2 linked regions of the Homo sapiens genome follow. The protein of the gene in region 1 purifies or fractionates together with the protein of each later gene. This does not show direct contact. Each region holds a gene or a part of one and is shown in the gene's direction. Other genes may lie near its edges.

What was found. The genes of interacting proteins can lie anywhere in the genome.
Region 2: the proteins of HEATR3 (region 1) and EXOG purify together in Homo sapiens (co-immunoprecipitation; 2 studies listed by BioGRID and IntAct, with this or other methods). This does not show direct contact.

Annotation. Positions count from the first base shown.
Region 1 is NC_000016.10:50,071,849-50,076,994, forward strand, and holds part of HEATR3 (HEAT repeat-containing protein 3), read left to right. Parts: intron 1-756; coding exon 757-866; intron 867-3,722; coding exon 3,723-3,863; intron 3,864-5,146. UniProt on the Homo sapiens protein: Plays a role in ribosome biogenesis and in nuclear import of the 60S ribosomal protein L5/large ribosomal subunit protein uL18 (RPL5). Required for proper erythrocyte maturation.
Region 2 is NC_000003.12:38,505,903-38,510,671, forward strand, and holds part of EXOG (nuclease EXOG, mitochondrial isoform 1 precursor), read left to right. Parts: intron 1-951; coding exon 952-1,066; intron 1,067-4,769. UniProt on the Homo sapiens protein: Endo/exonuclease with nicking activity towards supercoiled DNA, a preference for single-stranded DNA and 5'-3' exonuclease activity.

The DNA of each region.
Region 1 (5,146 bases):
AATTATTACAATTAGCCTTGTTAACTCGTATTTAATGTGTTTGCTTATTCATAACACTGAAAGCTGAGTCTTTTATTAAAAGGTAGTATAATTTAAAAAATACTTATTGTAATTTCTCTATTGTAGACTGCAAATTCTGCTTGATGAAATTATAATTGCACTCTAAAAGGCTTGAATAAAATATAATTTTATTTTCCTTTAAATGTGTGTTTTTGTTAATGTTCTAAAATATAGTAGGTTAAAAAATAAAAAATAAATTTGTGTTTTTGTGTGATAAATATAGAGGCCTTTTATCCTCCTTTAACTTGTTATCATTGTGGTATGGAGGAAAGAAAAAACAGTAGCCTGGACCCAGGGAACCTAGGTACTGGGCCTGGCTCTACCACTAACAAAATGTGTGCTCTTTGATGGGCCACTTTACCACTTGGGGCCTGGGTCTTCACATTTATAAAATGGGGAGTTGAATTAAACGATTTACAAGATCTCTTCCAGCTCTAACCTTCTATAAGGAAACTGGCATCATGGCAAAGAGATTGATGAAAAGGTCCCATTGTGATAGAAATAAAATATAGATAGCCAGTTCTCATGTACAGTGAATGTGAATGGGTGTTAGTTCCTTCATCGATAAAAATGGTGGGTGTTTGATTCCAACTCCTTGGTTTATAAAGCCTCGTTTGTTTTTTTATGGATTGCTATGGTTGATTTCCTACTGTTAAAATGTGAATAGTAAAACTTTTTTTTCCCCCTTCAATTTAGTGAATGCAGTAGTAGAGCAGTGTCTATATTCAACAAAGAAGGGTGTTTGGAGATTGTGTTAAAGTATTTAAGTAGGTTTCCTACCAATGTTGACCTGGCTATTTCAGTAGGTAAGTGAAGAAAAGGTGATGACTTATTAAGAATGTGTAGCCTTATTCAAAAATTTTTATGCAGCTTTGGCGTGTTTATTCCACTGGAGTGATTTTTTGTTTCGTTGTATGTGAATGTGTAGCTCAGCACCTGTTTTTTCTGGGTCTTAAATCTGTGATTAATATTAATTCTTTACCTACTCATTCAGTTTTTCTGCTTTTGACTCTGAAAGGGAGAAAGGTAATTATGTGAGGATATGTGGTTTCTAGCCTGTTTCCATTCTTAGCAGCCTTTATTAATTCTTGAAGTTTTCATCTCCATTTACTAAGAAACAGTAACGCACAACTACCAGGCCTTTAAGCCAGTTAATTGGAATCTAAACTTATTTAAATGTATTGTGCTACTATCTCATACGTCCAGCAGAAAACTGACGGCCTGAGTTTTGTTGAGAGAAAAAGAGGAAAAGAAATGATTGAAATTCCACTTAGGCCTTCATGCCTTCCATGAGACAGGGAAGGCAAAGTCCAGCAACTTCAGTGGCTTTGGCTGCCTCGCCTTCTCTTTATTGGGCTGGGGAACCACTGGGGACCCTCAGCTCAGTGGCAGGAGGCAGAAGTCAGAGCATAGGCAACTCAGCAGAATTCTGGGTGGGAGTGGAGAAACAATTGAGGGAGAGCATTTCTTTTCTACCGATCATTACTGCGGGCATCCAGCTGTCCCTTTGTGGAACTGCATTTCTCCTGGGGAGGAAGAAGTGTATTCCCCTGACTGCTGTTTTTCTTGACTCTAATGGATATTTTTAAGAGAACAGAATTGAGGGAAAATAGTAGAATAAATACTACTGAGAAAATTTTAAAAATCATTTCTCTAAATGGAATCTTGGTGGGGCTGGAGAGTTGTGAGTAAATGGGGATTTTAAAAACGATTCAGCCATTTTTAGGAAATTGATAGGTGACTTAATCTCAGAGGACAGTTTTTGTTACAATAAGAGAACTTCAGGAAAGTTAGTTCATATCTTTTACAAGAAAAATCACTTCTATTTTTGTGCCTTTAGTCTTATAGATTTATTTCTGTTTTTAGTTTTTCTTCCCCTTAATGAGCGTTTTTGAAATGGATTAGAATAGTCATTTTGCATTGTATAATAGTGTTTTCCTTCTCCATGTAGCTAGATTAATGATTTTTTAAAATACATTATTACTTTTGCTTCTAAAGTCAAGCAATGCTTACATATAGTAAAATGAACTTATAAGATTCCATCCCATGTATTCATATAACTTTTTTTGAACCTGTATGGTAGCAGTCATGGCTGTTGGCTAAAGTAAATTTAATTAGTTTCTTAATGACAAAGATATTACATTTGGATATATGTACAGAAATGCATATATGTGGATTTCCATATAAATGTATCATCAACCACAGCAGTAGCATGCATTTTGAGTAATTTTGATGGGCATGATTTAATATTTTACACATCTCTTAATTTGCTCATACTTTTATATAAACTACTTTTTTTCTTAAAGAGCTATTGCTCTGCCAGAAATAACCCTAACTTTGAAGGTCATGATAAATTTAAAGGAAGCCAGACGTCCCAAAACCTAAGGCTGTTTGCTACTGGTCCTTGATAAGTACATAAATTGAGGGTAAAATTTTTTTTTTTTTTTTGAGATGGAGTCTCAGCTCTGTCACCCAGGCTGGAGTGCAGTGGCGCAATCTCGACTTACTACAACCTCCGCCTCCCGGGTTCAAGCTATCCTCTTGCCTCAGCCTCCCAAGTAGCTGGGATTACAGGCGTGCATCACCATGCCTAGCTAATTTTTGTGTTTTCAGTAGAGATGGGGTTTTGCCATGCTGGCCAGGCTGGTCTGCAACTCCTGACCTCAAGTGATCCTCCTGCCTCAGCCTCCCAAAGTGCTGGGATTACGGGCATGAGCCACCGCACCCGGCCTGAGGATAAACTTTTATAAACATTTATAGTAACGACATTGCCGCATTTAAGAGTCTTTTTAGGCTGGGCGTGGTAGCTCACACCTGTAATCCCAGCACTTTGGGAGGCTGAGGCGGGCGGATCACAAGGTCAGGAGATCGAGACCATCCTGGCTGACAAGGTGAAGCCCCATCTCTACTAAAAATACAACAAATTAGCCAAGCATGGTGGCGGGTGCCTGTAGTCCCAGCTACTCGGGAGCCTGAGGCAGGAGAATGGTGTGAACCCAGGAGGCGGAGCTTGCAGTGAGCCAAGATTGTGCCACTGCACTCTAGCCTGGGCGACAGAGCGAGACTCCATCTCAAAAAAAAAATAAAAGAGTCTTTTTAATTGTATTTTGTAAAAAGTGTAGATCTGGCTGGGCATGGTGGCTCATGCCTGTAATCCCAGCACTTTGAAGGGCCGAAACGGACAGATCACTTGAGACCAGGAGTTCCAGACCAGCCTGGCTTTCATGGTGAAACCCTGTCTCTACTAAAAATATAGAAATTAGCCAGGCATCATGGCGCATACCTTTAATTCCAGTTACCTGAGAGACTGAGGCACAGGAATCGTTTGAACCTGGGAGGCAGAGGTTGTAGTGAGCTGAGATGCGCCACTGCATTCCAGCCTGGGTGACAGAGCAAGACTGTCTCAAAAAAAAAAAAAAAAAGTATAGATCTGTACAGGATTAGAAATTTAAAAAGAAAAGAAACATGATCTTTTCCAGCACTGATAGTTTGGGAAGCCTCATTTGCGCATATCACCCTGAGATAAAGCATATATATTTTGCAAAACCTACATGTGTCTAATGAAGTGGTAATGATACAATGTTTTATTGATGAGTTATACTGGTGTAAATTATCCAAAGCAGAATTCATTTGTTTCTAAATACTTATTTTTTGCCTCGTAGCATATTGTTTGCAGACAGTGACTGAGGATAACCCAGAGCTGCTGAAGTCTTTCAGTGCTACAGCATTGAACATGCTGGAATCAGCACTGCTTTCTCCTGTCAGTTCCATGGAATCTCTTCTATTGAAGACATTGGTAGCAGGTAAAATTTAGCCTTACGGCATAGTATATTGTTTCAGTAGCTTTTGGTATGGATGTGGTGGGGGCAAAATTTAGTCATTCATTTCAACACATTAGGTCTTCTGTGCTTTTATCTGTTCTGAAAATTTTAATATCTGAGAAGAGACCCTTACTTCAAGCAGTTGTCTATAGTTGTAAATCCTTGTAGAATAGATTTGTTTCGAATTTAACAAACTACTGTTAACCTGATAAAGAGATGCTGTTGTCAGGATCCCCACTTATTTATGAACCAGTGATTTCAGAAATTGACCACTTAGTTTTCCATAAGTTTTTTTTTTTTTAACCACCAACTCTTTTCTCTGCAGAATGTCTGAATACAGAAGTAAGAAATTATCTGAAGGTCTGTTTAGTATGTACTTTATTTAGTTTATGTATCTATTTTCTTCTTGCCCTTTGTCTTGCAGAGATAATTTATGTTGAGAGATTTTTTTTTTACTTTTTTACTTTTTTTATTTTTTATTGTTTTGAGATGGAGTCTGGCTCTTTCACCCAGGCTGGAGTGCGGTGGCTGGCTCTGCAGCCTCACCTCCCAGGTTCAAGTGATTCTCATGCCTCAGCCTCCCAAGTAGCTGGAATTACAAGCGTGCGCCACCACGCTCAGCTAATTTCTGTATTTTTGGTAGAGACGGGGTTTTACCATGTTGGCCAGGCTGGTCTTGAGCTCGGGACCTCAGGTGATTTGCCCACCTTGACCTCCTAAAGTGCTGGGATTACAGGTATGAGCCACTGCGCCTGGCCTGTTTTTTTATTTTAATAGTGGAAAAATACACATGAAATTTACCGTCTTAATCGTTTTGGGTTTTTTTGAGACAGAGTCCTCCTCTGTTGCCCAGGCAGGAGTGCTGTGGTGCAATCTTGGCTCACTGCAGCCTCCACCTCCTGGGCTCAAGTGATCTTCCCATCTCAGCCTCCCAAGTAGCTGGGACTACAGGTGCATGCCACCAGGACCAGTTAATTTTTTTTTTTTTGAGACGGACTCTTGCTCTGTCACCCAGGCTGGAACGCAGTGGTGCGAGCTCAGCTTACTGCAATCTCTGCCTCCTGAGTTCAAGCGATCCTCCTGCCTCAGTCTCCTGAATAGTTGGCATTACAGGCACCCACCACCACACCTGGCTATTTTTTTTTTTTTTTTTTTTGGAGACTGAGTCTCGCTCTGCCGCCCAGGCTGGAGTGCGTGGCGCGATCTCCACTCACTGCAAGCTCCGCTTCCCAGGTTCACGCCATTCTCCTGCCTCAGCCTCCCGA
Region 2 (4,769 bases), on another chromosome or scaffold:
TTGCAGTGAGCTGAGCCTGGGTGACAGAGTGAGTGAGACTCCGTCTCAAAAGAAAAAAAAAAAAAACTTCCAACTGCAGTCATATACATACTTTCATATGTATATGAAAGTACATATTACAACTACTTGCCATTTGGGCACCTGTAATCCCAGCTACTCGGGAGGTTGAGGCAGGAGAATCACTTGAACCCGGGAGGCAGAGGTTGCAGTGAGCTGAGATTGCACCATTGCACTGCAGCCTGGGTGACAGAGTGAGACTCCATCTAAAAAAAAGAAAAAAAAAATACTTGCCATTTTTATCTGGTAAGTTGACAAAAACAGATTTTAAATGATAAATCCCAGCATTATAAAGATTGTTGTGAAACTGCTGTGTTGTATTTTAATTTTTTAGAGTAAATTGATATAACCCTATTAAAAGCTTATAGAGTAAATTGATATAACCCTATTAAAAATGTTAGTTTTACATATGATGACGAGTCTTTAAAATAAATTCATTCAGTAATTCTGGTCCTTGAAATTTATCCTAAGGAATTGATACAACGTTGCATTATATAAGAAATGTTAACATAAGCCCAATTGTCCTGCAAGAGGAATGGTTAAATAAAGTATATCATCTTGTTGGAATGATACATAATTCTTGAAAGCTGGTTGGGAACTATGGCATAAAAAAAGTTTTAAGTTCATGAAATTTGAATTCCAGAATGTACTCTGAGCGCACATAAAGAAAAATGTAGATAGTTTTGTTAGTGTATGTGATTTTTAAGTTTTTTCTGTGCAGTAAGCAAACTGGGAAAATAATTGTTTATATGCTTATAATGTTTTGTGCCATGTTCTTGTTTAATTTCTCAAATGCAGTTTTTCTTGGTATCTTTCATAGGAATTGATATGATTTGCTGCTGTCTTACATGTATATATGTGAGAATATCATACATTTTTTTATTTGTTTTTCAGAATAGAAATGTACTGTCGAGAGCTGACAGAAAGGTTTGAAGATGTTTGGGTGGTATCTGGGCCTTTGACCTTACCTCAGACTAGAGGCGATGGAAAGAAAATAGTTAGTTACCAGGTAAGGATGTTTAATAGTCAGGTTTATGTTATCTGTATGAGATTATAATCTCACTTTCCATTCTGCTTTTTATTTTTATTTTTATCATTCAAAAAAAATTTTGCATTCTACTTTTTAATTTCACTTATTCAACAATATTTATTGAACACCTATTAGGAATGATAGGCATAGGGAATATAGTGATGGATAAAAGCAACTATTGACTTCAAGGAACTCACGGTTTAGAGTGGAAAACAGATGTTAACAATTAATTACATTAAAGTGTGACATGCTGTAATAGAGGTAAACACACACAGTGTGGTCTTGTGAAAGGACTGATGGGCTCTACTCATATGAGTCAGGAACGCTTAAAAGAGGAAGTGATATTGAGCTATACCTTGACAGATAAGAGTCAGGAGTGGACCCTGAGGATTCCAGAGGATGGAGCAGGATGAGCACAGGACATTTGTGGTCAACATCAGGGTTTTGAGATTTATATATCATTCATAAAAATTGGAGCTTATGGTACAAAACAGTGTGGGTGGCTCAAGGGGTATGAAGAGTTCCATAACAACAGGTGGACGGGTGAGATAATATGCGACTTTCTATTCTATGATGAAGACTTGGGTTTTAATTTTTAGGCACTAAGAAGTCATAGATTTGTTTTAAGCGTGGGAGAAATATGATATTTGGGTTTTATAAAGAGTATTTTGGCAGCAGCGTGTAAAGAGATAGGTGGGAAAAGGGAGCATTTGAAGAAGAGATTAGAGGCAAGGAGATGAGTTAGGACATACAAGCAGTTGGAGTGAGGAATAATAGAGGAACACAGGAAAGAGTAACCATGAATAAATAACTTGTTTGAGTGAGGAAGAGGGAGAAGTTCCAGGATAACAACTAGATTGCAGACCAGGCTCAGTGGCTCATGCCTGTAATCCCAGCACTTTGGGAGGCCGAGGCAGGCGATCACGAGGTCAGGAGTTCGAGACCAGCCTGGCCAATATGGTGAAACCCCGTCTCTGCTAAAAATACAAAAATTATCTGGGTGTGGTGGCGTGTGCCTGTAGTCCCAGCTACTTGGGAGTCTGAGGCAGAAGAATCGCTTGAACCCAGGAGGCGGAGGTTGCACTGAGCCGAGATCGCACCACTGCACTCCAGCCTGGGCGACAGAGCAAGACTCCACCTCGAAAAAAATAAAAATAAAAATAAAATAAAAACAACCAGATTACAGTGTTACAGTGAGTTGAATAAATGGGAAGAAAAGCTTTTCTTCTAGAAGCTTCTTTTTTTTAATATGCAAGATATGTGAGCACTTTTATAGACTGAAAGAGAGATTAAAGATAGGAGAGTGTAATTAGTGGTGTGAGAGCTTCAGACATCTAATGTTGCTGGGAAATTCTTAGCTAGCCTTTCATATTGGCAATTTACAAAGTGGTATACCTGAAGAGCAGGTGTTCTTAGAAAAAGTTTAACATTTAATCTTATCATGCAGAAATATCCTGAGGATTCTTCCAAGAGGGTGGCTGAAATGTTATACTATACTGTGAGGCTTACAGAGGGCAGGGAACAGGTGGAGTGAAGCAGAAGAGGTGGTAGAGTGAGTAAAAAGAAGCACTGAAGGACTTGCTAATAAGGCCAAAGAGGAGGGGAGGGAACACCTAGCTCAGCTCTGGAAATAAAGTAGATATTTAATAAATGCTGGTTAGGTAAATGATTACTTAAGTCTGTGATAAAATTTAATAACCTGAGGAACAGATTGAGGAACCACCCCCCCCCCAAAAAAAAACCAAAACTTTTAGAGTATATTCTGTCCATTTGACTTGCTTATTATCAGCCTGTCTAGATCAGATGTGCAGTAATGTCCAAGCATCCAAGGATTTGTATAGGTCCATATGAATAGCCCACTTTCTCTTTTTCCACACAAAATTATGACCCAACTACTTCTTTTTGTTAAGTGGAAATGATAGAGTAGTTGTTTTCAAGGATTTGTACATCCTTGGAAAATTCCAGTAGATATGGGAGTGAAGGAAGTCAAAGGAATTAGTATTTTAAAATTAATTCATTTAATATCTCTCCTCCCATATTAATTTCTCTCCTCTGATTAACTTGCTAATTTAATTTTAGTATATTTTATAGTCTTAGGAGAAAAAAAGGCTTAAAGCCCCCTGTATTATTTTTCAAATATTAATTATTCTTGGTCTTTGTTAAATCCTGTTTATTTTATGTCAGAAAAGAGGCTCTTCTAGCTTTGACTTGTATATCTTAAATGGTTAAATTACAGTTTTATTTGTGCTTTGTTTTTATAAAATTGAAAAATTTATATCACTAGCCTACTGTGTAGTAGAACAAAAATTTGTACAATGTTTAAAACGAAAAATTAACCAATAATTACAAGCATTTCACTACATAGATTTTTGTGTGGCTATTTCTGTAAAATATGTGTTGCCCAAATGCCGTAGTGGAAAATGTATTGTTTTTCTTAAGTTGGATATAATTTTTAAAAATAGAACTGATAAAAATATATCTTCTAGTTGTTTCTGCTGAAAAGGCCCAGAAGAATTGGTATGTCATTAGCAATGAACACATCTTGAGACCCAGATATTTGTTTCTAAAAAGCATCTCCTGAAAAGACTCAGCGCTTAGAGAAATGACTGATTTAAGGGGTGGTACAGGGAGAGTACAAAATGGAACATCATATATCAGAAAGCCAAGGAAGTGCTCAGACAAATGGTGGGGATATGTCAGAAGGACATGTGAATCAGCTTGAAGGAGCTCCCACTTACTGTATCTGGTGCTATTGAATATCAAAATAAAATGGATTATAAACCTATTGAATTAAATAAGAATACATACTCAATAAATATGTAAATACATAGGGTGTAAAGAAAAGCTTCTGCATACCATAGAATGTCAGTTAATAAATTTGCGAGAATGAAAGAGTTATACAAATCATTTTGCACACATCACCATAATTGATTCAGGCAAGAGTCATCACTAGCTAAAACTAGTGAGTGAATGTTTTATGAGGAATAGGGTATTTACATAATCTAAAAGTATCTCCTCATACATTATTTATTAATCACAAAGTAAGAAATAACTTTACAGTGAAGAAACATCCCATTACCCAAGTGATCAAGTTTAGTATTGCTAGTAATGGGACTTAGTGAAACGCTGTACTCCTGGTGTGATGCACTGAGCAGGATAAAATATCAGGCATACCCCAATTGAGAGACATTCTGTGAAACAGCTGACTTCTACTTTACAAAAGTGTTAGTGTCATAAAAGACAAAGGCTGAGAAACTATCTGTTCCAGATTAATAGATTAAAGAGTCATGCAAACAAAATGTGTAGTATGATCTTAGATTAGATCCTAGACCAGAAAAAAGTTGCTAAAAAGGATGTTATTGGGAGAATTGGCAACATTCGAGGTCTGTTATCTAATATACAAATTAGATAATTGTGTATTTTCAGTATTAAATTTCCTGATTTTTAAAATTGTTCTGTGATATGTAAGTAAATATCTTTGCTCTTAGGAAGTCATATCCTGAAGTGTTTAGGAGTAAAATGGTGTGCCTGTGACTTTTAAAAAGTTTAGGGAAAAGAGAAGAGAGTGATAAAGCAAATAGAACAAAATGTTAACAATTGGTAAATCTGAGTGAAGGATATAAAGGAAGGAGTTCTTTGTGCTGTTCTTACAAATGCTAAGCTTTTAATTAATTCAGAATTT